Linked DNA regions of Homo sapiens. The protein of the gene in region 2 purifies or fractionates together with the protein of the main gene of each other region. This does not show direct contact. Each region holds a gene or a part of one and is shown on either strand. Other genes may lie near its edges. The genes, in order: OSBPL8, SKI, MAEA, ITGB4, MKLN1, AGRN and RMND5A.

Evidence for each region.
Region 1: the proteins of SKI (region 2) and OSBPL8 purify together in Homo sapiens (affinity purification with mass spectrometry, with the first as the bait; one large-scale study listed by BioGRID). This does not show direct contact.
Region 3: the proteins of SKI (region 2) and MAEA purify together in Homo sapiens (affinity purification with mass spectrometry; 2 studies listed by BioGRID and IntAct, with this or other methods). This does not show direct contact.
Region 4: the proteins of SKI (region 2) and ITGB4 purify together in Homo sapiens (affinity purification with mass spectrometry, with the first as the bait; one large-scale study listed by BioGRID). This does not show direct contact.
Region 5: the proteins of SKI (region 2) and MKLN1 purify together in Homo sapiens (affinity purification with mass spectrometry; 2 studies listed by BioGRID and IntAct, with this or other methods). This does not show direct contact.
Region 6: the proteins of SKI (region 2) and AGRN purify together in Homo sapiens (affinity purification with mass spectrometry, with the first as the bait; one large-scale study listed by BioGRID). This does not show direct contact.
Region 7: the proteins of SKI (region 2) and RMND5A purify together in Homo sapiens (affinity purification with mass spectrometry; 4 studies listed by BioGRID and IntAct, with this or other methods). This does not show direct contact.

Annotation. Positions count from the first base shown.
Region 1 is NC_000012.12:76,553,272-76,556,771, reverse strand, and holds part of OSBPL8 (oxysterol-binding protein-related protein 8), read left to right. Parts: intron 1-3,500. UniProt on the Homo sapiens protein: Lipid transporter involved in lipid countertransport between the endoplasmic reticulum and the plasma membrane: specifically exchanges phosphatidylserine with phosphatidylinositol 4-phosphate (PI4P), delivering phosphatidylserine to the plasma membrane in exchange for PI4P, which is degraded by the SAC1/SACM1L phosphatase in the endoplasmic reticulum.
Region 2 is NC_000001.11:2,304,819-2,308,318, reverse strand, and holds part of SKI (ski oncogene), read right to left. Parts: intron 2,300-3,500; coding exon 2,069-2,299; intron 1,743-2,068; coding exon 1,554-1,742; 3' UTR 1-1,553. UniProt on the Homo sapiens protein: May play a role in terminal differentiation of skeletal muscle cells but not in the determination of cells to the myogenic lineage. Functions as a repressor of TGF-beta signaling.
Region 3 is NC_000004.12:1,296,391-1,299,890, forward strand, and holds part of MAEA (E3 ubiquitin-protein transferase MAEA), read left to right. Parts: intron 1-1,583; exon of another isoform or gene 1,584-1,725; intron 1,726-3,500.
Region 4 is NC_000017.11:75,752,459-75,755,388, forward strand, and holds part of ITGB4 (integrin beta-4 isoform 1 precursor), read left to right. Parts: coding exon 1-119; intron 120-1,306; coding exon 1,307-1,516; intron 1,517-2,117; coding exon 2,118-2,357; intron 2,358-2,596; coding exon of another isoform or gene 2,597-2,755; intron 2,756-2,930. UniProt on the Homo sapiens protein: Integrin alpha-6/beta-4 is a receptor for laminin. Plays a critical structural role in the hemidesmosome of epithelial cells. Is required for the regulation of keratinocyte polarity and motility.
Region 5 is NC_000007.14:131,334,376-131,337,875, forward strand, and holds part of MKLN1 (muskelin), read left to right. Parts: intron 1-3,500. UniProt on the Homo sapiens protein: Component of the CTLH E3 ubiquitin-protein ligase complex that selectively accepts ubiquitin from UBE2H and mediates ubiquitination and subsequent proteasomal degradation of the transcription factor HBP1.
Region 6 is NC_000001.11:1,037,120-1,040,619, forward strand, and holds part of AGRN (agrin isoform 2 precursor), read left to right. Parts: intron 1-3,500. UniProt on the Homo sapiens protein: Isoform 1, isoform 4 and isoform 5: neuron-specific (z+) isoforms that contain C-terminal insertions of 8-19 AA are potent activators of AChR clustering.
Region 7 is NC_000002.12:86,768,791-86,772,290, reverse strand, and holds part of RMND5A (E3 ubiquitin-protein transferase RMND5A), read right to left. Parts: intron 2,269-3,500; coding exon 2,166-2,268; intron 734-2,165; coding exon 579-733; intron 1-578.

The DNA.
Region 1 (3,500 bases), on a different chromosome or scaffold from region 2:
GAATCGCATGAACCCAGGAGACAGAGATTGCAACGAGCCAAGATCATGCCATTGCACTCCAGCCTGGGCGATAGAGCAAGACTCAGTCTCAAAAAACACCAAAAAAACAAAAAGCCTCTGAGAAATATACAATTTTTAGTGAAGGTGGCTGGGTACAAGGAGATTAGTAGAAGTGCTTGACTGGAGCAGTTGTGGCCAAAGTATAGCTTCCTTGTGATGAGACACAGGAAGAGATGTCTAGACTCATGTTGTGTGCATATTTCATGGCAGTATGTGGGAAACCCCTGAGAGATTTTAGATCTTTCTTCCCACCTTGGTCCCCATCCCTCACATATCCTCACAAAGTCATAAAATTCTCATGTGGAAGGCGTGATAGAAGGAATTTTTCTTCCTGAAAAGTGTTATCAAGCTTGCAAGGGAGAGAGCTATTTTCGGAGACCTTATAGGGAAGAAATCCTAGTCCTAGAGCATCATATTCTTATACCCTGTTATTTTTACCTTTGTCGAAGATCCAGATAATGTAAATTCTCCATGATAGCAAGGACCTTGTCTGTTTTGCTCACCATTGAATCTCCAAATGTTCAATAGTTAATGAATGAAAAAAGTCTACTTCCAGATATATGACTGGAGAACAAAAGGAGTATCTGATAATGTAGTCCAAACTAAATGCAAGCAGCGAAATGATAAAGGAAGGATGTTAGCTTGGGAGAAGGGGAACAGGTCATTTAATCTGGGAAACTTTCTTGGAGGAGGTGATTCTTGAGTTAGGTTTTGGTGTGGGCTGTGTGTCTGAAGATAAGCAGTGTCTAAGGGGGTAGACAACGTGCAGCAAAGCATTTAAGTCAGACTGAATAAATTATGTCAGATAAAGCACAGTAAGTCTTTTTTTGTAACATTATGAAGAATTTTTATTCTCCCATCTCTATTTTCACCTCTCCCTAAATAAAAAGATTAACTTGCTTTGCAACAGCAGAGATTGACAGTACTTGAGTTTTGGAAGTACGATAAGGGTCAGAAAATTTGAATTGGTGTTCTGACTGAATCTTATACAAGCGTCGTTTCCATCGGCCAATCACTTGGTCTTAGTTTTCTCATTTGTAAAATCAGGATAATAATCCATGATCGTTGGGAGAACAAAGTTATATAATGCATGTGAAAGTGCATACCTCAATATGAATGTGCCTACCTCAATGTGTCACACATAGGAGGACTTCAGCAAATACAAAATTATTAAAACGTTTGTCTGCAGATCTTTAAAACATATTTTGATTCGTTTATCATGAACTCTAATATTTGCTTGACTCATCTAGATGACTCATGGCATTATGTTTAAATTGATCAGAATCAAAATTCTAGATAATTTTCTTTCAGTCAGTTTAATGTTTTCTGGTAGAAATGAGGCCTAATTGTATTACTGCTTAATGTTACAGACCACAAGGAGTGCTAGAAGCCTCAAATTTTTGAAGCTCAAAGTAAGGGATATGTGTAGCTGAAAATCTGAGCCTTTAAGCTTTTTTTCTCTACGTAATTTGTTTTTGAAGAAATTGTCTTTGCCTGTAATGTCATTTATCTATTCATTGTTGTGATGAAATAAGGGGTTTTCTGGTTGTTAAGAAAAAATTTACCAAAAATATTTTCTGTTTTTAGTGATGTGACTATAAGCCATGAAGATCTCTACCATCTGTGTTTTATTATAAAATTCAGTATTTCTTGAGCAAACAAACAGACATCTGCATTATTTCTTATCTAAGCTTTTTGTGCCAGTAGCTGTTCATTTATGAATCTCAGAATTTCATTATACTTTGTGAACTCTTTGTAGTGTTTTTGATCCATGGAGCAGTCTGTCCTTTGTATAATATTTGGAAGAGAATTTTATTATAAAAAGACTAAGAAGAGTCTTGAGCCTTTTTATTATACAAAGACTAAGAAGAGTCATCAAATGATAAGCCAGTTACCTACTAATTTCCATATTCAAAAAGGACTGAAAAAAAGAGGAAATGGTTTCAGAGCTTGACTTTTTTCAAATAAAAAGGAGAAGCTTTTTGATTTAGAGTTTTTGAAAACTTGATAGATTCAGAGGGAAATTGTTATAGGTCATATTAATAGCTAATGTGCGTCAACTGCTATATACCAGGTACTGTACTACTCTAGAAGTACTTGACATGTCATCACATTTGATCCTGACAACCACCCCGCAATCAGGCTATTTTCTTTTTTTTAAACCTGAGCAACTGACAGATTAAATAAGTGGTGGAGCCAGGATTTGAACTAAACCTGAGGCACAGAGAAGTTAAGTAGTAGGTGGTAGAGCCTACTAAAAGGATTTAAACTTGAGGTTTAACCTGACCTTTGACTTTGGAGCCTATCCTTTTAACCATCATATTATATACTGCCTTGTATAATTTATTTGCAGTTGCTCCTCTTGATACGTCTTGACCTTGTGATCTTCCTGAGTCTGTTTTAGTTGTGTCATTTACAAAATGCACTTTACTTTATAAGAAGATGGAATATAGCCTTGATTTTTTTTCTCTCATTTTACTTGTATTTGACTGACATCCTATTTTTAAATCTTAAAAATACTTAGAGTAAAGCAAATATTTATTTTATTGTTCATCCAGTTGCCATTTTCTCACTGGGGAATTTCAGAGAATTTCGGAGTAACTGGAAATTAAAGAACATAATAGATAACAGTATTTAAAGCTAAGTTGTTATAATTAAAAAATAGTTTTAAAGAATAAGGCTGATTCACAGAATTGGTATGCATTTTTTTTTAGTGTTTTTTTTTTTTTTTTTTTGAGATAGAGTCTCACTGTGTCACCTAGGCTGGAGTGCAGTAGTGTGATCTTGGCTCACTGCAACCTCTGCCTCCCGGTTTCAAGTGATTCTCATGCCTGAGCCTCCTGAGTAGCTGGGATTACGGGTGCATGCCACCATGCCCAGCTAATTTTTTGTATTTTTAGTAGAGATGGGGTTTCACCATATTGGCCAGGCTGTTCTCGAACTCCTGACGTAAAGTGATCCACCTGCCTCGTCCTCCCAAAGTGTTGAGATTACAGGCGTGAGCTACCTCCTCTGGCCTTTTTTTTTTTTCTTCTGATACAGGGTCTTGAGCTGTCACCTAGGCTGGAGTGCAGTGGCACTCACTACCATGGCTCACTGCAGCCTCGACCTCCCAGGCTCAAGTGATCCTCCTGTCTCTGCCTCCCAAGTAGCTGGGACTACAGGCGAATACCATCACACCTGGCTAATTTTTAAGTTTTTTTTTTTTTTTTTAGAAACAGAGTCTCACTATGTTGCCCAGCTTGGTCTTGAACCCCTAGCCTCAAATGATTCTCCCACCTTGGTCTCCCAAAGTGCTGGGATTATAGATGTGAGCTGCCATGCCAGGCCTATTTAGTGATATTTGAGGGACACAGATCTGTACAGTTGAAATCTGTCCTGTTGAGATGACCACCAGTAAGGTAATTTTTGCTTTTTGGCTGCCAAATGCCTACATATTA
Region 2 (3,500 bases):
CGCCACCCAGATGCGAGGGCTCAGCAGTCTCTGGTCTTTGCTCGTCACTGCCCCGAGGTCGTCTGTACCTGGGCAAGTAACCTCCACCTTCTGTGAGCGCGTGCAGCTGCCGCGGGTGTTAGAACGGATTCAAGCAAAGAACTCCTGTAAGATCTTCTTATGTAAATAAATACCGTAACTGTAGGATAGGTAGCCGCCTCTTGTCTACTGGGAAATCATTTTTCAAGCTTGGGCATAAGAAACCTTATACAATTTGCATAAACAGGTGAGAGTAAACGAGATTATTTGGAATAAATGCAAGGAACTTATTCTGAGAGTGGCAGATTCAGTCGCTACTGAAGACAGATATCTTGGGGGTAAAAAGACACGAGTCAGGATTTGCTGTACAAGATGCTGGAAGGCACAGAACGACCCCCGAAGTTCAGTTTTTGCATTTTCGTTTTCTTGTGATTCCCTTGTTCAACCAAGCACCAGAGGGGGTTTCTAAGCACTCGAGCACTTCGGATTTGACTGCTCTATAAATCGGTAAAAACCTCAGTTCACTGGGGAATAGAAAGAGAAGGGAAGGTTGTGGACAAAGTGCAGTTCTAAATATACGTTTAAATGAACGAACAAAAAAAAAGAAAGAAAAATTGAAATAATGCTCTTTTGTTCCAATGCTGCAGCCTCAGTCCCAAAATGAAGGGAGCGACGTTTGCCGAACTGAAAAGGGTCGCCCGGTCAGGCGGCACGTGTGCCCGGAGGGGCTGAGGGCGTGACCGCCAGCCACGGTCACCACCCGACGCAGGTCAGTGCCTCGTGGTGGAGGAGCGTGGGCAGAATCACGGGGTGCAGAGGAGCCGAAGACCGTCCCCTCAGCTCCGGGGCAGCTCCTGTGCGGCTCTGCACTTCCTGGTACCCGTGGGGACAGCGCTGGCATCGACGGCGGCGTGGCGGGCGGGGTAGGCGGCAGTAAGGCGGGCAGTGTTCGAGCTCATCTCGCACGCGGCACTGTCCCTGCTCTCCCTGGCAGCAGCAGGAAGACCTGGGTCCTTGTCGCTGAAAAAATAGACTCTGAAGAAAAACCCCTGCTGTCCTCACGCAGCCGCGGGCAGATGAGCTGTGATGGCTTCCCCGGGTGGGGAGGGTGGGGCGGCCGCCACCCCCACTCCGTTGCGGGTCTTCAGATGGCGTCATGTGTTGGGGCTTTTAGAAGTTAGTCATTTAAAAATGTGTTGATTTTCTGAATTTCAAGTCTCCTTACTGGTTTTAAATAGCTTATAACAAAAGTGTAAATGTTAGAATGTTCCAGCAAGCAGAGGACCAGCAGGCCGCCGAGCTGGCCCCGTCTCCAGCTGTAGTTGGGGGACGCGGCTTACTCACTTGAACTTGGCCAGTAGAAAATTTTGCAGTGGGTTCCAAAACTACATGGTTACAAACACTCGCTTGGTAATAGGCACGGTAAGACGTTGTGCTGTGTGGGCTGCAGGGGCGGAGCCGGGCGGAGCTGCACCGCCCAGCCGCGCCCCCCTGCACCCGCGTTGTCGGCGGCGCTGCGGCGGCAGGCACGGAATCTACGGCTCCAGCTCCGCAGCGCCCTCGCTGCCCGCAGCCTCGGGGCGGGCCCGCGGCCACAGCTGTTCCTGCAGCTCCTTCACCACCTTCTCCAGGTGCTCCCGGGCCTCGCGCTCCCGCAGCAGGTCGGCCCGCAGCTGCTCCCGGTCCGCCTCCGCGTGCTGCAGCTTCACCTGCAGGTCTTCGATCTGAAAGGGAGCCGAGTGGTCAGCGGCGCCTGCTCGCTGCCCTGCCCCGGCCCGACGCTGCTTCCCCCACCCGAGGCTCCTGCGCCGCTCCCTGTCCCTCCCCAGTGCCGCGTGCCGGCCCCTCCTCCACCTGCTAGGACACAGGCTCACGAGACGCAGGGCCCAGCAACCACCCACCCTGTGCCCGTCGGGGGGGCACGCACGGAACGTGGTCCCGGGCCTGGCTTCTGCTCCAAGGCCTTTCCGGCTGGGCAGGACTGGCCACCGGGGCCCACGGCGGCTCCACGCCCACCGTGCTGCGTGCCTCAGTCTCCCCACCCGCATACCTGGGCCGAGTACTTGGCGCGCAGGCGGCCCGCCTCGCAGCCCTTGTCGCACACCCGGGCCTGCCGCGCCTGCTCCAGCTCCCGCTTCAGGCGCAGCCGTGACTCGTTGGCCTCTTTCATCTTCTTCTCGTTCTCGGCGCGGAGACGCTCGATCTCCTTCCGCAGGTTACGCTTGGCCTCCGTGGCCTCCCGCAGCTTCTCCTTCTTGGCCACGCGTAGGAACTCCAGCTCCTGGGGGCCGGAGGCGGCTCGGGGTCACTGCCCAGCCGGTCCCAGCACACCCCTCACCATGACCAGCAGTCCTCAGCCCACCCCGTGGGGTCATCTATCTGACAATGTGCCCTGGAGCCCCGCCCCCAGCGCGCCATCAGCCCAACCCGTGTGGTGCCCCGACCCCACAAAGGCTTTTCAGACCCCCATCCGGAGTTTCCGCCAGGCCTGTGGCAGCTGTGCTAAACCTGGGGGCCTGAGTCAGTCACTTGAGGCTGCGGCGGGGCCTCCCCCGGTATCTAGGGCCACGTTCCCCTTGGGGGCAGCAAGCCAAGTAGGCCCTGGCTCCCATCAATGTGAGGAGGGCAGCCTCAGACATCGCACCATCTGAGGGCCCCGGGTCTCCCCACGCAGCCAGATGGACACGTCCATCCGCCCGGCGCCTCCGCAAGCCCCCCCACTCTCCCCATTAAAATATCCGTGTGACTCACACCCCACGCTGCAAACACACCACATGAATATGTATGTGGGAAATCACACCTCCAACCAGAATCAAGGACAACAGTGGCGGGGGACGTGCTGGGGCGAGGGACTGGCACGCGCAGGAGGGCACGTCGGCAACCCTGCAGCTCTGAGGGCCGACGGGGTTGTGTTGTGCTAAAGCCCACGCCGCGGAAGCTGCCAGACGCCGCCGAGGTGTGAATTTAGCGAGGCCGGGGCCCGGTGAACAACGGGCCGCCTGCACACCTCTCTCCCCAGGCAGCTCTGCCTGTGAACCGCACTTCCCTCAGTCATGTCAGAAAGAAACCTAAACAACGTAAAAGGAGGCGCGAGACCGGAGCTGCAGCGTGAGAACCGTGAGGCAGAGCCCAGAGAAGCAGCGTGTGCAGGTGGGTGTGTGTGTGTCTGTGCGGGCCGAGCCCTCTCCTTCCTACTCGGGAGGCCTGGCGGGAGCCGCCTTCTGGAACACCAGGCATTAGTAAGCACGCCCCTCACGCCTGTGTTTTGCAGACGCCAGGTCTTGCTGGCGGAGCGCGTGAACACCCACTCCTGGAGCACACAGAGCAAGGAACTGTCTCCATGCAGCTGCTCCCAACTCTTTCTGCCACTAAAAATAGCCCGGCCTCCCTTATACCAGAGAAACATGGCTACTTCCTCAGTGGGGCCACCACGCAGGGTGTGTGATCCTGATGGGGAAAGCTGTGGTCAAGCCAAATGTAGT
Region 3 (3,500 bases), on a different chromosome or scaffold from region 2:
CGTCACCCATGCCATTCCTCACCTGTACCCCTCACCCATGCCTGTGCCGTTCCTCACCCGTGCCTGTGCCCCCCTCACCCGTGCCTGTGCCTCCCTCACTTGCGCTGTGCCCCCCTCACCTGTGCTGTGCCCTTTGCCTTGTGGCTGCTCCTGCACTTGGTTCTCTCTCTGTTGGTCGGTTTTCCCATTGGCTGTGCAGCTCCCTGGTGTGCACGTGGCTCTGAGTCTTCCTCTCGTGAAAACCCCTTCCTTGCCCCCGTCCTCCTCCAGCTACTACTCCCTGTCTCTGCCCCTTCATGTCTCTCTTCCTGTTTTACCTAAATCAGATTTTTGCCCCCCAACACTCCACCCAGATGTTCCTCTTGAGGACAGGATGATGCTCCTGAAAGCGGTCAGTCCACAGCGGACCCCACTGCCTCGAGACGCTCCCATCACTCGGCTCCCGTGACACCATCCTCTGGGCTCTCCCCACCCCTCGCTGCATGTCCTCACTTGCCTATGCTGTCTTCTCTAGTCTTGGAGGCCTTTTGTTTTATGTCACCAGCCAGCCCTCCAGAGGTTGTGTGGCTTCACAGACGGTCTCCAAGCTCCTGTCCCCACACTGCTGCCCTCCCCAGGCCTCTCTCCCTGAGGCCATCCCGTGTAGTCACCTCCCGGAGCTCTCTTCGCATGTCTGGAAGGCAGTTCAAAGATACGATACCAGGCGCAAAACCAAATGCCGCATCTCGGCCTTGGGGCCCCAGACGAGCCCCAGACCTGCCTTACTAAGCCACCCTTCCCAAGTCAGTTGACAGCGATGTCCCCCGGCACTTGTTCAGTGACAGCCGAGAACTCGGAGGTTTTCTCGATTTCTGTTTCTCACGTTTATCCTTGAGTCCACGATGGCTGCTGGGGCTGCGGCCTTCGCGGCCAGGAGGAGGGTAAGGGGGAATCAGTGCCGCCCTGCGTGGCCAGCTCCCTGCGTGGGGGCCTTAGTGGACATCCTCCCAAGCGTTTACACTTCAGCTCATTCCCCAGAGCACGGGGCTGGCCATTTCTAGCTTTGGAGGAGCCTGAAAAAGTACGTGCGTATGTGTGTGTGTATACATACATATAGAGAGAGAGCACGCGCTTGAGTGTGGGCTCATTGCTGCCCTAAATAAAATTAGGATGTGGTTCCTTTTGCCCTTTGTCCCTTGCCTGCCTGGTTTCCTTTGCAGCACTCGTCACAGTCTGACGCGGTCGCCTGCATCTCTCTGTGCTTTGGTTGGGCGTCTCCTTTAGAGCGTCTGCTCTGCGAGGGCACGGGCCGTCCTTTGTCGTCGTTCACGTCACACCCACGAGTGCCTGGCACAGGAGTCAGTCAATGGCTGTTGGCCGAACCAATTTCTCCCCCGTCTGTCTGGGAAATTCCTAAACTTCGCATCTCACTTTTGTCCACTTGCCGCATTCTAGAGTATGTCTTGGTCTCATGGCCTGTGCTCTCATCTGGCTGTGGTCAGCCTCTTGCGTTTCCTTTCTCCCTTGCCTCCACCCCTCGCGATGTAGCCCCATCCCCTGCCCTTCTCTGCTTCCCATTGTTCTAGAACATTCCAGCATGGAAACCCCGCTGTGCAAGGCCCCTGCACTGGCCACAGAAGCCGCACCTATCTGCTGAGGAACCCGGTTGCTGCCTGGAGTGGGTGTCGAGTACTGCCTGGCAGCATAGCCATGCTTCTTGAGGCATTTTAGCACCCTGTACCCCAGGTACTGTTCCATATGCCCCTCCTTCTCCATGAGCCCCCCATGCCTGCCCCGTCCTTGTGCTCTGCCCGCGGCTTGGCCCTGTCTGTCGCCTGCCTGCTTGTGCTCACTGTTTCCTTTCTTTTACTGGAGATATGTCATTTGTGCCCCGCCCAAGGCCAGCCTTTGTTCATGCACCAGACCCCCTGCCCCATCCCTGTGACCTGAAGAGGCATGTGCCGTCTTCTGGTTATCCACGAAGAGGCACACGCGCCGTCTTCTGGTTATCCACGAAGAGGCACACGCGCCGTCTTCTGGTTATCCACGAAGAGGCACACGCGCCGTCTTCTGGTTAACTGTGTGCGGGACCCACAGGTCCCCTCTGTCTGAGCCAGCCCTGCCTTGGGGTCTCTGGAATTGCTTCTCATCTGGTTTTACCCCCATCACAGTGCTATAGTCAGGGCACCAGGTAACCCCAAGACACTGCTGAGACCCATGATGGATTCTTGCTGCCCATCTCGACCTCTCACAGGGCTGGAACACAGCTCACCCCCTCGGGCTCCTAGAGCGCCATCCTCGCGTTTCCCCCCGGGCTCAGTCCTTGGCCCTGGGTGTTGCTGTGAGCACCGCTGCCTTGGTGCTCTCACAGGGTCTAGTGGACTGATAGGACCCTCTGTGTATACTGATGACTCCCAGGCAGGTATCTTCCCAACCCCAGAGCCCTGTATCCAGTAGCCTGTAAAACATACCCACTTGGCAAGGCACTTTGGCATTAAAATTATTATTATTAAAATTATTATTATTTTTAGAGATGGGATCTCACTCTGGCACCCAGGCGGGAGTGCAGTGGCATGATCACAGCTCACTTCAGCCTTGACCTCCTGGGCTCAGGTGATCTTCCTGCCTCAGCCTCCCGGGTAACTGGGACCACGGGCGCCTGCTTCCGTGTCTGGCTAATTTTTTTATTTGTAGAGATAGGTTCTAGCTCCGTTGTCTAGGCTGGTCTCCATCTCTTGGGCTCAAGCATTCCTCCCTCCTGGGCGTCCAAAAGTGTTGGAATAACAGGTGTGAGCCACCATGCCCAGCTCCTTGGCATATTTAGATCTGAGCTTATCATCTTAACACCTGCTGCCCAAACCAATTCTACCAGTCTCCCTTCTCTTCGGGAAGGGCAGCCCCTCCATCTCCCTTGGTCAGGCCAGAACCTTCAGGTTGGCCTTGATGCCTCTGTTGTCACAGCTCATGCCCAGCCCGTCTGCCCCTCCACCCTGGCGTCAGGACATGCCCAGGCCCAGCTGCTGCTGCTCTTCCCACCTCTGCCCCTGCGGCTCAAGTCGCATCTCTCTCTGGAATATTGAATAGCCTTCTGGCTGCTCCTGCTCTGCTCATGCCCACCCCGGCTGCCCCAGCGCCAGATCCTGTCGTCTTTTTGTTCTAGGAGTTTCCTGACCTGGGGATGAAGGCCAGGGTCGTTACAGTGGCTCCCAGGCCCTTTGCCCTGTAGGGTGCTGGGCCCAGTGGCCTTTCTGCCGCCATTCAGCCAGGCCAGCATGCCGAGCCCAGGGTTTTACTGCCACCTTCCTCTGTCTGGAGCGCTCCTTCCACAGATGTCCATGGTCCCATGTCCTCACCTTCAATCTTTGCCAACGTCCGTGGTCCCATGTCCTCACCTCCTTCAATCTTCGCTGAGCTGTCAGCTTGTGAAGCTTCTCTGACTCCACTGTTGAAACTGCAGCCCCAGCATCTCCCACTTCTGCCCTTTTCCCTCGTGAGTCGTGACCGCTGTCTCACATAACGGT
Region 4 (2,930 bases), on a different chromosome or scaffold from region 2:
TGACATCCCTATCGTGGACGCCCAGAGCGGGGAGGACTACGACAGCTTCCTTATGTACAGCGATGACGTTCTACGCTCTCCATCGGGCAGCCAGAGGCCCAGCGTCTCCGATGACACTGGTGAGTGGAGACCTGGGACCCACAAGAGGACAGTGGGGGTCTTGGGTACAGAGTGAGTCCACTGGGTCCAGAGAGGGCAAAGGGGCCAGCAACTAGAGGACATGGAGGTTAAGGCAGCCTTGGACAAATGCAATGGAGTGCACATCTGTGCATGGGGCACAGGAACCAGTGCCTGGGGGACAGACACACACAGCCTTGTGCAAGCGCACATGAGTTCATGCCCACGGGACCACGAAGAAACACAGCTTCACAAGTTGAAGGTTCACCAGCTGTGCCATGCACACAGGACACTCAGGCCACCCCCCAGGGGCAGGCCTGGCCCAGGAGCCCTGGGCAGCCACCAGGCGGCCACCTGGCAGGGGTAGGGGAGCCAAGGAGACAAGAACACCCCCAACAGCTCTGTCCTTCCTCCTTGATTCCCAGCACAAAGTGCTGCGGAGCCCTTAGCTGGGCCTCCTGAGTGCTCAGTGTCAGCTGTGGCTCCACCTGTGGGACATCAGATGAATCACTCATCCTTTCCATGCCTCACTTTTCTGCTCTGTATAATGGGATACCAATCACACAGTACCATGAGTGGAAAAACCTCTGGGGCACGTATATCTTTTGTATTTTCTTCTGTCCCTGCCGATGCCTCAAGCTGCCCCCGGTGAACACATACTGGCCCCCACGGGGCTCAGCTTGGGCTTAAGGAGCCATTTTGAGGGGTTCAGGTGGAGCGCAGCTGGTGTGACTCTGGAACCCCAGCTCAGCTGCTTCTAACACTACCTGCGAAGCGCTCGGTGGCTTGCGGAACGGTCCCTGGGAGGCGGGCAGGGGCAAGATTCCTCTCTCCATTGTACAAACGGGAAACTGAGTCTCGGAGAGGTTAAGTAAAGCAAGGGAGACCTCACAGCTGGTGACAGAGCCCAGACTTCCCCCAGGTTTCTGGCGGGTCCGGGGGTCTCTCCTCCCCAGCTGTGCCGAGGCTGCACTCGCTCATCTGGAAAGGCTTCAGCCGCGCAAGGGTTTCACCTGCCGCGGCCTTCCCGCTCCGGCCGTGCGCATCTACCCCCGCCCCCAACACACACCCCGGGATCCCGGGAGCTGGAGACGGGCTCCCCTCGCAGAGCCTACGGCCTTCCCCCGCCTGGCCCTGCTCGGCCCGGCGCCCCCCGGCGGTGCCAACGCGGCCCTTCGTTGTTCCCAAGGCTGCGGCTGGAAGTTCGAGCCCCTGCTGGGGGAGGAGCTGGACCTGCGGCGCGTCACGTGGCGGCTGCCCCCGGAGCTCATCCCGCGCCTGTCGGCCAGCAGCGGGCGCTCCTCCGACGCCGAGGCGCCCCACGGGCCCCCGGACGACGGCGGCGCGGGCGGGAAGGGCGGCAGCCTGCCCCGCAGTGCGACACCCGGGCCCCCCGGAGGTGACAGGCTCACCCGCCGCCCCCCGATCCGCGCCCACCCAGCCTCACTCGCGCCTGAGGGCCTGGGGTGGGCGTCTGCGCTGCCTCGGGGGCCCCAGTTTCAGCCAGGCCCGGGCCTTGGCGGCTGGGAGCACAGCTGCTCAGAGGCAGGGCCCAGTGCCAGGGGACGCGTGAGGCAGGCGCTTGGGCCCTTATGGTGCCTGCCTGGCCAGGGGGTGCAAATTCAGAAGTCTGCCCGGGAAGCGGACCCTGGCACCCAAGTAGACCCCTCAGGGGCCTCAAAGGACAGGAGGGAAGGCTTGGGGATCTCCCCAGGGCAGAGCTGACTGCAGACGCAGCAAACCCCCGCCACTGCCAGGGTCAGCAGTGCTCACACCGATAGAGTGGCCGGCCAGAGGATATGGGCTGTGGAAGCCTGGGTGGCCCTTGGGCTCCTGCAGGGACAGAGGGCCTCTGTCCCTAGTGGTTTGAGGGAAACTGGTTGTATTTAAGCAAAAGCCACCCAGAGGGTGGGTGACCAGGAATGTGCAGGGCCCAGCCTGCCCCACGGGGCCCGGGTCTGGGGCAGGCCTGACCAAGGGACCCTGCTCTCCCCCTGCAGAGCACCTGGTGAATGGCCGGATGGACTTTGCCTTCCCGGGCAGCACCAACTCCCTGCACAGGATGACCACGACCAGTGCTGCTGCCTATGGCACCCACCTGAGCCCACACGTGCCCCACCGCGTGCTAAGCACATCCTCCACCCTCACACGGGACTACAACTCACTGACCCGCTCAGAACACTCACACTCGACCACACTGCCCAGGGACTACTCCACCCTCACCTCCGTCTCCTCCCACGGTGAGTGACCTCAGCCAACCCTGCCTCTCCCACTAACCCTTCCTCTCTTCCAGCTCCTGGAGCCTCGGGCTTCTGTCTGCTGTCCCCACCGCCCATTCTCCAACATACACACACGCATGCACACATGCACGCACACACGTGCACACGCATGCACACATGTACACAGACATGCATGCGCACACGTACACACATGCATGCACACTCCCTGCTCCTCTCACTCTTGTTTTGTCCTGCCCTAGGCCTCCCTCCCATCTGGGAACACGGGAGGAGCAGGCTTCCGCTGTCCTGGGCCCTGGGGTCCCGGAGTCGGGCTCAGATGAAAGGGTTCCCCCCTTCCAGGGGCCCACGAGACTCTATAATCCTGGCTGGGAGGCCAGCAGCGCCCTCCTGGGGCCCAGGTAGTACAGGGGTGGCCATCCTGTCTCCACAGCTGTCCTGCTCCATCTGTCATCCAGCCACCATAGCAGCCGCCAGCTGTGCCCACTGCTTCCCCTCCATTCCATCCACAGGACCCCCGCCTGCCCACAGGCGCTAACCACCTGCCCTACCATCAGTGCTGATGCCTAACTCTGC
Region 5 (3,500 bases), on a different chromosome or scaffold from region 2:
TGTGTTTTTCAGTCTGGGACTCTTAGAACTTCAGAAAAATAAAAACACTCAAGATGGAAGAAATGTACTCAGGATGAGAATTTGAGTCTACAGAGCTGATTCCTAGAATTAGATATTTGTGACTTTTGGCAAGTTATGATTCTTTTCTGAGCGTCAGTTTCTTGTGTAGAAATACTTTTTATCTTGATCAAATGTTGAGAGGTTTATGTACAATTTTTTGGGCACATGGGTAAATGGTTCTATTATTTGCGTTAACTTTTAGGTAAATATTTAAATAGATTTTTAATAAATGATTTTTGGCCTGATACAAAGACTTTGTGATGTTTTACGTGTAGATAAGATACATTTCAGCCACTTGTGGCAATGAGTTTGCTGTATTTCAGTCATTCAAAAATCGTTTTTGGAAATATGAAAGATTTTCTAGACTTTAATTTTAGAGATACAGCTATTTATAGACATTTTAATATGTATAAAATGTTTCAAAGAATGTACAGTTGAGAATTTAGAGATCCCTAATTACTGTTTGTTTATAATACCATTTGTCAGAAATCTCTGATAAGAGACAATAGAAAATTTATAAAATTTCTAGGTCTTTATAGGTTCAATCTTAGGATAGTTGATCCGGGTATCTTCTCTGCTACCGGATTTCCCAGGGCTTGTTTTGTGAATGGCTGGTTCTGTAGATTGTTGCTTATTAAGGGGTGGTCAGATAAAGCTCTGAGAAGTCCAGCAGTATTAAAATCTATTAATATGGGGGACTTTTGAAGAAAATATTTTTTAACATCTTTGCACATTGGGAAGATGTTTCAGTTAGAAAATTTTTTTGTTGTTGTTTAATGAGAACTTCAGGACTTGGTTACGAATATTTCTAAAAATCTGTGAAGTCAAAGTAACATTCTGTAGAATACTGTGTATGTATATTTATGCTGTAGATAAACAAAGATATTGTTTGTTTAATGGGTTTTGCTTATGATGAAATTTTACTGATTAAGATTAATCCATGTTTAAAAAAGTATACAAAGAGAAAGGAAATATCATAGTCATTATCTAGGAATAATTTAAGTAGTCTAATATAAATCTGTCCCTAAAAAAGTTGTTGAATGGCAGCTAACTAGATTGAAGTACCCTAACATAACTTATATTTTGAATTGGTTGTTAATAATAATTGGAAAACTAGGCTATGTTTAGTCCTAAGACTATAGGGTTTCCTCTCAACACATTTTAGCTGTATCCCACAAATTGTGGTATGTTACATGTTCATTATCATTTATGCAAAAATGTTTTTCAGATTTTATTTTGGCTTATTCTTTGACCTGTAGGTTTTTTTTTTTTTTTAACAAATGTATTGCTTACTTTTTGAACGTTTGGGGATTTGCTAGTTATCTTTCTGTTACTAATTTCTTAATTTCACTATGATTAGAGAACACACTCTGAATAGTTTCAGACCTTTATTGATACTTATTTTATGGCTCAGCATTTTTATAAATGTTTATGTACCCTTGAAAAGACTATGCATTCTGCTGTTAACTACTGTCTTCTATGTACTTTGTTAAGTTCAAGTTTGTAAATTGTGTTATTGTGTTGTACAAATCTTCTCTATCCTTACTGAATTTTTTTTTTTTTGCCTTTTTTTCTATTCATTACAGAGAGAGGTGTCTTGAGGTTAAGTGTCAAATGTGTCTTACTGTGATTGTGGATTTGTATATTTCTCCTTTTAGTTCTATAAAGAACTAAACTGTATGCTTTATGTATTTTGAAGTCATATTACTAGGCACATACAAACTTATCTTTCTAGTACATTGGCTCTTTATCATTATAACATGTCCCTTTTTATCTCTAGTAACACTTGTCTCTCGCCTCAAAGTCTTCTTAGCTACACCTGCTTTATTTTGGCTGCTGTTTGCTTGCATGGTAAAACTTTCTCTCTCCTTTTTGCTTTTAATGCTCCTGTAGCTTTATATTTGGGGTCTGTTTCTTGTTAAGAATAAACAGATTTTTGTTTGCCTGTTTTTAATTAAATCTGAAATATATTTAGCTCATTAATGGTAAATATAATTATTGATAAATTTGGGTTTATGTCTGTCATTTTATTGTTTTCTGTTTGTCCTACTTGTTCTATATTCTATTTTCTCTCCATTGTTGCCTTCTTTTGGATTAATCAAGTGTTTTAAAAATATTATTTTATTCCTCCCTTTGTTAGCTTGTTAGTTATATATTCTGTTACTGTTCTTTTGGTGGTTACGCTAGATCACCACAAGCTTTCTTGTGGTACATTAGAGTTGCATATTCATTAGGATTTTGAAAAACAACATCTCAGACATTGTTAGGACCCTAGAAAACTTTAATAGCATTTATCACTCTCCTGCTTTTATGTTGTCATTGTCATGCATTTCACGTCTACATTTAAATCCAGAGACTGTTGTTTTGTACAGTTAATATTTACCCTTTCCATTGTTCTTTATTTCCTTTTGTATTTACATGCTTCCATCTGAGATTAATTTTCCTCTGTCTGAAGAACTCCTTTTAGGGAGTTTGGTGGTACTGAATTCTCAGTTTTTGCTTGTTTGAAATTTATTTATTTTCATCTTTGAAGAATATATTAAATGACTGTACAGTTCTACATTATTAGCTGTTATTTTCTTGAAGCACTTTAAAGATCTCAGTTCATTGTCTTCTAGCTTCCATTGTTTCTGTTGCAAAATCAGCCGTCAGACTTACTGTTGCTTCTTGGAAGGTAGTATGACTTTCTTGTTCAGCTGCCTTTCTTTTTGTCATTCTCTTTTTCTTTAAGTTTAAACAGCTTTCAGTGATGCACCTAAGAATGGTTTTGTTTGTACCCTGTTTGGCGTTTCTGGCACCTCTTGAATTTGTAGTATGACTGATCAGCTGTGAAAAAATTTTGACTTTTTAAAAATATTGTTTCTGCCCCATTTTTGTCTCCTTTGCTCTGTGACTCCAATTAAATCTTTATTATACTTTTTATCCCCCATATGTCTCCTGCTCTCTTCTGTTATTTTTATGATTTTTTTCCTCCTCTTATCCGTTCTGGATAGTTTTTACTTGACTGTATTTCAGTTCACTTATTCTGAATTTAACTATGTCCAATCTGCTTTTTAACCCCATCTATTCTTAATTTTAGTTATAGTATTTTTTAGTTTTAGAATTATTTCATCCTCTCTTTTTAAGATAGATTCTAATTATGTGAAAATCTCTTGTCATGTATTTTTTGAGCATATTAATCAAATTGCTTTAAAGTCTGTGTCTGAAAACTTCAATATCTGTATCACCTATAGGCCTATTTCCATCATCTCTTTCCTTTTGATTTTGCATCTTGTTAGGCCAAATAATAATAATAGTTAATATATTTGTATATTAATGTATGTTAATTATATATTCTATTGTATATTATATAAATTATTACATGTGGATAATAACATAATAGTAATAATTATTATTAGGCAATTTTTTGATGGAGTGCCAGACATTATATGCAGAATTTT
Region 6 (3,500 bases), 1.3 Mb from region 2:
GGGAGGAGACAGGTCTATGCAGGTCTATGCTGGTGGCTGGGGCCGGGCAGGGCCAGGGCAAGAACTGCGTTTCCACCACCTGTGAGCCAGAGGCCTGGAGCCAACTGGATTTAAAGAGGTGCTCAGGTGGGAGGTCCCCTCTCTTAGCATCCTCAGCCTCGTTTCCTGACACCCAGAAGGCTGGGGAGTGTCTCCTTTTCTTTACACACTGCCCCCTTCACCTGGCCACAGCCCACCCTGCCACAGAGTCACGGAGGGCTCCACACCAAGGCCATCGTGACCCACATGCCACCTAACTGTGGTCATAGTTACGGGCCAGAGCTCACAGCAGGGCTGGGGCATCCTCTCCATCCCCCAGCCTACCCAGGACCAGGAAGGGAGTTAAATATACCCGCTCCTATAAAAAGCACTGCCGCCTCCAGCGTTGCACACAGTGGGAGGACCCGTCACGCTGCGGGAGAGTGGGTGGGGAGGCCGAGTGGCCGGGGAGGGGCTCCTGCAGGAGGTGGAGCTAAGACAGGCGTGGCAGGACCCCCAAAAATGACCCATCGGGAACACAGGGCTCTCAGGGTCCTAGGTGTGTCACCTGCATCTATGAGGGGCCATGTGGGCAGGTGACCGGAGCACAGATGTGTCTGAGCCCAGTGCTGGCATTTCTAGCAGTGTGGCCTTGTCAGGTGGCCTACCTTCCTCCTGCCAGCTGGCAGGGGAGACATCTCGGGGCGTGGCTGCTGCAATGCGCTGTGCCTGGCGGGTACGTGCGTGTGTGCCATCACCACGTGCACCTGTCTTCAGGTGATCTCGTGTGGAGCCTCTATGATCCCCTAGGCCTGTGGAGACTCAGCACAGTGGTGGGAGCGGCCCCTCACCTAAGCCCGCAGTGTGAGCGGAGAATGGGGGGGTGGGGCTTCCCGGAGGCCGTGATTCCTGAGCTCACTCTTGAGGGGCAGATGTGTTTCCAGCCTGGATGGGGATAGGAGGGAGGGACCAGCACTGTGACCTTTAAACCCTGGGCTGGCCGGCAGTGTCACACCATCAAATGCTGTGAGGGAGATCCACCCCCACTCCACAGCTGGGGCCACATTCCAAGAGGAGCGGACTCTCTGAGGCCCTGGAGGCAGAGGGGAAGGGGCCAGGACCTGGCCCTGCACACCAGATGGGGATGGGGAGCCAGTGCTCAGCCTGGCTTCAAGGTCCCGCCAGGTACCCAAGGTCTCTCCACTGCCCTGCCACATTGGTCCAGCAGCTGGTCACTCAGAGCCTGTCCCTAAGGTACCTCTAGGCTCCCATCCCAGAGCTTGCTCTCCATGCCCCTGCAAGCAGTCCAGCCCCGCTCACCCTGGTGAGCTGCCATCATCACCTTCTTCCCCAAGGCTCTGTCTTGGGACGTAGCAGGACCTCGGGCTGGACTATGGAGGGAGCTGCGGGTCCTGGTGGATGAGGAGCATGCCCGCCATCCAGGAACAGTGCCCTTGGCCATGGTGTCAGGGCCTTGGGAGAGGTCTGGCTGAGCCAAGGTGACCAAAAGGGGAGAAAGGCTCAGGAGCCCTGGTGCAGGGAGGTGACTGGGTCCTTGGCCATGGGGTTGGGACCTGGGGGGAACCATTGGTCCACAGGTCCAGCCGAAGCCCAGGAGAACAGCTGGCTGGGCATCAGCAGGTGCCCGTTGGATTTGGACTGGGAGTCCCAGGGCCTTGGACAAGGCAGGGCCAAAGGGAGAGGGAGATGCTGAGGGGAGAGAGAAGGGGAACCAGAAGGGAAGTGAAAGGGCCAGGGGTGCATGTGGTTTGAGTTTGATTTGAGCCAGGACGGGGGAAGGCCAGTGGTGATGACAGCCCTCATGACTATACTTACAGTGGCAGCAGACGGGCCACATAGCGCTGTGTGCTGGGCACCCTCTAAGCTTTGCAGATACTGGCCCATTTAACCCCACAATCCTGGGAGGTAGGTCCTATTGCTCCTATTCACCGAAGGGGATACTGAGGCCCAGGCAGGTGATAACCTGCCCACATTCTCACAGTGGGTAATGCAGAGCTGAGCAGCCTGGCTGTAAGACCTGAGGTGGGAGAGTAGCAGAAGAGGGGTGGGGGCACAGCCAAGGTTTGGGGAGGAAGACAGGGATCTGGTGGGGGGAGCATGGGTAGGTTGCAGGGATGGCAGGCGGATGGCCCTCACTCAGCCTTCTGGGGTGGGGGCAGGGACACCCAGACAGACAGCGCCAGAGCCTGGGGTGGGCTGTTGCTATAGCAACAGCTGGCTCCAGCTCCCAGTGCACCCACCCTCCTTGGAGATGGGGGGGGTTCCTCCTGCCCCATTTCACGAGCCTGCTGGGAAGTGATGGGTGGTAGCCACCCCTCTGACATGACTTATTAATGATAATTGGACCCAATTAAACATTTATTAAATCCAGACAGCTGCAGCCGCTAACGGACCCTTCCCTGATCCTGGGTGGGCCATGCTGGGGGTGGGGGTGCTCAGGATGGGCTGCCGCAGGGGCTCTGGGTTTTAACGTGCCTGAGGCAGCTTTGTTGGCCACGTTGAGGTCTGGTGATGGGACGTGTGTCAGGCGCTGTGGTCTGCAGCTGTAAGAACTAAAATGAGCAACAGTTCCTGCACCTCTCCAAGAAGGAAGTTCGCTTTGACAGAGAGTGAGGGCGATGGAGGAGGCAAGAGTGAGGTGGGGGGCCGGGGGATGCCCAGGGAGGAGGGGGCGTGTGGGTGCCCCAGGGATCCCAGGGAGCGATGGGAGGCTGCAGAAGGGCACAGGCCTGCCGCGGGTGGGGGGCTGGCCAGGGAGAATAGGAGATAGTAGAGGCGGAGGCCAGGAATTTGCACTTCTCCAGGGAAGCTGGGGAAGAGTTGGGGAGAGGGAGGCAAGAAGATTCCCCACCCATCTTAGGCGCAGGGAGCGGTCAGGGAGGCGCCAGAGGTGGGCCAGAGCTGTGACCTGGCCTCACACCCCGTCCCGGTGGGGCTCTCAGGCCCCTGAGGGCCAGACGCGGGACCTGGGTGCGACCCGGGCGGGAGGCGGCAGGGCTCAGCTGTGCTGGACGCTGCAGCAGCGCGGGAAGGGGCTCCCCCGGCTCCATGGGGTGAATCGGTGAGGGGCTCCGGTGCCGATGTGGAAGGAGCTCCTGAGCAGAACTGGGGCCTGGACTGCTTGTGCCCGAGTTGGTTTCGAGGCGTCTCTGCTTTTCGCTGGAGGCCCACGAGGTGGGTGGGAAGTGGGTGCTCGCCCGTCGCAGAAACAGAGTCGGGTGCCGCCTGCGGCAGACGCCCCTCTCCGCGCCTGCAGGTGCGGGGTGGGGGAGAAAGGTCATCCCTGGAGAGGCCCGGGGCTGGCGGGAATCCTCGGCGGGCGGGGTCTGCGAGGGGCAGGGCCGGTCCTGTGAGCGCACGCACGCGTGTCCGTGTCCGTGGTGGACCCCCGATGCGGCGCGGGGGCGGGTGAATGCGCGGGCTGCGAGCACGGCAAGGTCTCTCAGGCTTGTGGACGTGGG
Region 7 (3,500 bases), on a different chromosome or scaffold from region 2:
TTTTTAGTAGAGATGGGATTTCACCGTGTTAGCCAGGATGGTCTCAATCTCCTGACCTCGTGATCCGCCTGCCTCGGCCTCCCACAGTGCTGGGATTACAGGCATAAGCCACCACACCTGGCCTTCACTTAGCACTGTTTAGAGAAACAAATGTTCATCAATAGGGAACTGGCTACCCAATCATATTTCTATACAGTAGAATATACTGCAGCTTTAACAAAAAAATAATGAGGGCTGTTTCTGCAGCACAGAAAAAGATCTCCAAAATACATCACTAAGTGAAAACAGCAAAGTACAGAACATTTTTTAGTATGCGACCATTTGTATAAAAAAGGGGAAAATCTATCACCTACCCCAAAAGTTAAGTTAAAGACATGCTTATAAATCTAATCACCAAATCCATAGACACATTAAAAATACTCAAATCAGATACCACCAACTTTGCCAAATGAATAGTTAAGAAATTTATTTAGTTCTAAATCTAGCTACATTTTTTTAATCCTCATCACTTCTTATCCTCCTACCAAGTTCCAAAACAAAATTTATTTGCTAACATTTTTTAAAAGTCAGACACTTACTTGCTACCATTAAACATTTTATTCAGGGCATCTCTTGATATAATATGACCACAGACCAATTTCATGGGTGGATTGTTATCTGTTGTTTGCTGACGAAGAATGGGGCAGGCAAATATAGAGTGATACCAGCACTTTTTACCAAGGTCCACTTCAATCTGTTAAAAAAAAAAAAAAAAGTAAAAAAGCTGAAGTCATATTTCACAAAACCATCCACATGGTAATATACACTGTGCAGCAAAGAACATTGATCAGATCTATTCACCTGAATGTAACTTTCTATAGCACTCTTCTAACTCAGATGGACAGTCTTAGTGATTCAAAGTGTTAAATTAGCCTTCAAGATTATTTTCAAGAAAGCTGACAAAGTGTAAAAACAAGTCTGACAAACAATGACCTGATCACCACCTCTAATGGCTTTACTGGCTTGACACACAGTCTTTAGGTGAATTCAGATTTCAGTCTGCTCTTAGTGCATGTCAGAGATGCTTACAACATAAATGGGAAACTGCCAGATGCCAGGCACCTGCCTCCACAAAACAAGTGAAGGCTCAAGTTCTTTTCACTTGTTCAAGTTAGCGGCAGTAGAGCAGGAGTGCTACTTGTGTCCTGACCACACTCAGGACCAGGACTGCACCTGTGCCTTTAATCAGAAAAGATCTTTGAGGAGAAGCTGGGGCAACCAACTGACAGGGTTACCTGCTGGAAGAACAAGGTAACTGCAAATAAACCCGTGTACAGGTGTGGTATAAAACGGGCAAAAAAACAAATGCGTATGTTAGCTTTTCAGGGTCTGTGACACAATCATGACAGGAACGACAATTCCAGGCCAGAGCCTCAGTGCCTGTCAGAGACCTGGTGGAAACATACATACAATGACCTTCGCCACTTCACATCATAACTGCACCATGGCAGCCACAATTTGAGTGCCTACCATGTATCCCGTCTTATTCTAAGCATGCTTATGTTATCTCTAGCCTTCAGCAGCCCCATAAAGAGAAAGCTGGTGCTTGTCTTAGAGATGAATACACTACTGCTTAGAGAAGTTCTAGAGTTGGCAAGTGATCGTGCTGATGTTTAAAACCATGGTCCTTTCCATGAGAGCAGTAGAAATACAGTACTAGAGACCCACTGATGACTGCAGGTGTTACGACCTTTAAGAGCTCTATACTTATTCTATTGGCAAATGTAACCAGCACAAACTCGTGATCTTATCGACAGCAATAGTTAAGACAAAAGTAAAACCAATTAAATTTGCGTTTATATTAGAAAAACAATCACAGGAGTGGTCTGTGAACTGCACTGCAGAACACACTGCCTGCTACTGTATGTACAGCCCTCCCCACTTCTGATGTTTCCCTTCACCAGCTTTCAAAGGCACTTCAAGTCAAAATTATAATACTCCTCCTCCAGGGTCCCCAAAATGTACTAGGCTCTTCATTTGTATTGTTTAATCTTTTATATATCCATAAAAGAACTCCTGTCAAATGGCTACAATGTTTCCTGGTTAAAAGGTAAGATGAACATTTAAAGATGCCATATTCTTCTAATGGCAGTAAAAGTAAATAGCCAATAGAAAATGGAACTCACAGGTAATTCATCTTTCTGGTTCCAAACTCCAGTACACTGCCTCTGTTCAATCACGGCTTTGATGTTAATTAAAGCTGGCAGCGCCACACAACCTGCTGAGAAACTGGGAGAGCAGAAGAGGAAACGTCAGTGCCAGGCCAGGGGTCAGGCCGCTTGGTCCAAGGAGACATCAATTTCTCCAGACTCTATGTGCTGCAGACCCTGGCCACTGGACAGGGTGAGAGCTTTCTGTTCTGCTAAAAGTAAATCCAGCCATTTCCACTAGAAGAGAAATAACTTGTTTTCCCTCCCCTTCTTCCCCAGGCCCACTGGTATATTTCCTGAAGTTACTGAAAACCAATCCCAGTTAAAAAACAAAACAAAAAATAAAACTCTAAATTTTCTAAATAAACCTCACCAATATGGGGGTAAATGCAGTTAAAGAACGCAAACGTTAAAAAAAAAAAACTCATCTGCTAGGGTAATTTAACTTTAGCTTACTTCCTCAGAAAATAGAAAAATAAAGTTTTAAAACATGCATTTTAAAAAAGAAAGCAGCTTTGGAGAACCAATTAATTCAAATGAAGAGCAGGAATTAAGAACTACTACACTCTTCCAAATACAGTAGTTTTAGCATCTGAGTTTGAAGGAAAAAGAGATGTTCTTGCACAAAATTCTTCACTCAGCAATATACAAGACATAACTTCCTTTCCTATTCCCTTCCTTACAGACCATATACCACCAGACTTATTTTTCTTACAAAATGTGCTCCAAGGTATACGCTAATTAGAACAATGATACTCAAAATGTGGTCTGCAGATGGTGCTGATTTACACACCATTTTCAATCCACAGGAAAGAAGTACAGAATTGAGAATAAGGTTTTTAGAGAATTTAATAACAGCAGATGGTGGTGGCTCACTCCTGTAATTGCAGCACTTTGGGAGGCCAAGGTGGGAGGATTACCTAAGTTTGAGAGTTTGAGACCAGCCTGGGAAACACAGTGAGACCCCCGTCTCTACAAAAGATATAAAAATTAGCCATTAGCCAGGTATGGTAGCATGTGCCTAGAGTCCCAGCTACTGAGCAGGCTGAGGTGGGAGGATGCCAGGAGGTTGAGGCTGCAGTGAGCCACGATCGTGCCACTGCACTCCAACCTGGGCAACAGAATGAGACCCTGTTTCAAAAAGTAAAATATAAAGAATTTCATAATAATCTTACATTAGTGCCAAAAAAGGTTTTATATTGCACAAAACAACTGGATTTAATGGGCTCAGCTTATCAGTCAAATGACATGCTTGCTCCTGAAACATTTTTTTTGCATAGTTCCTCTTATCCCCAGATCACCCCTGTCCAG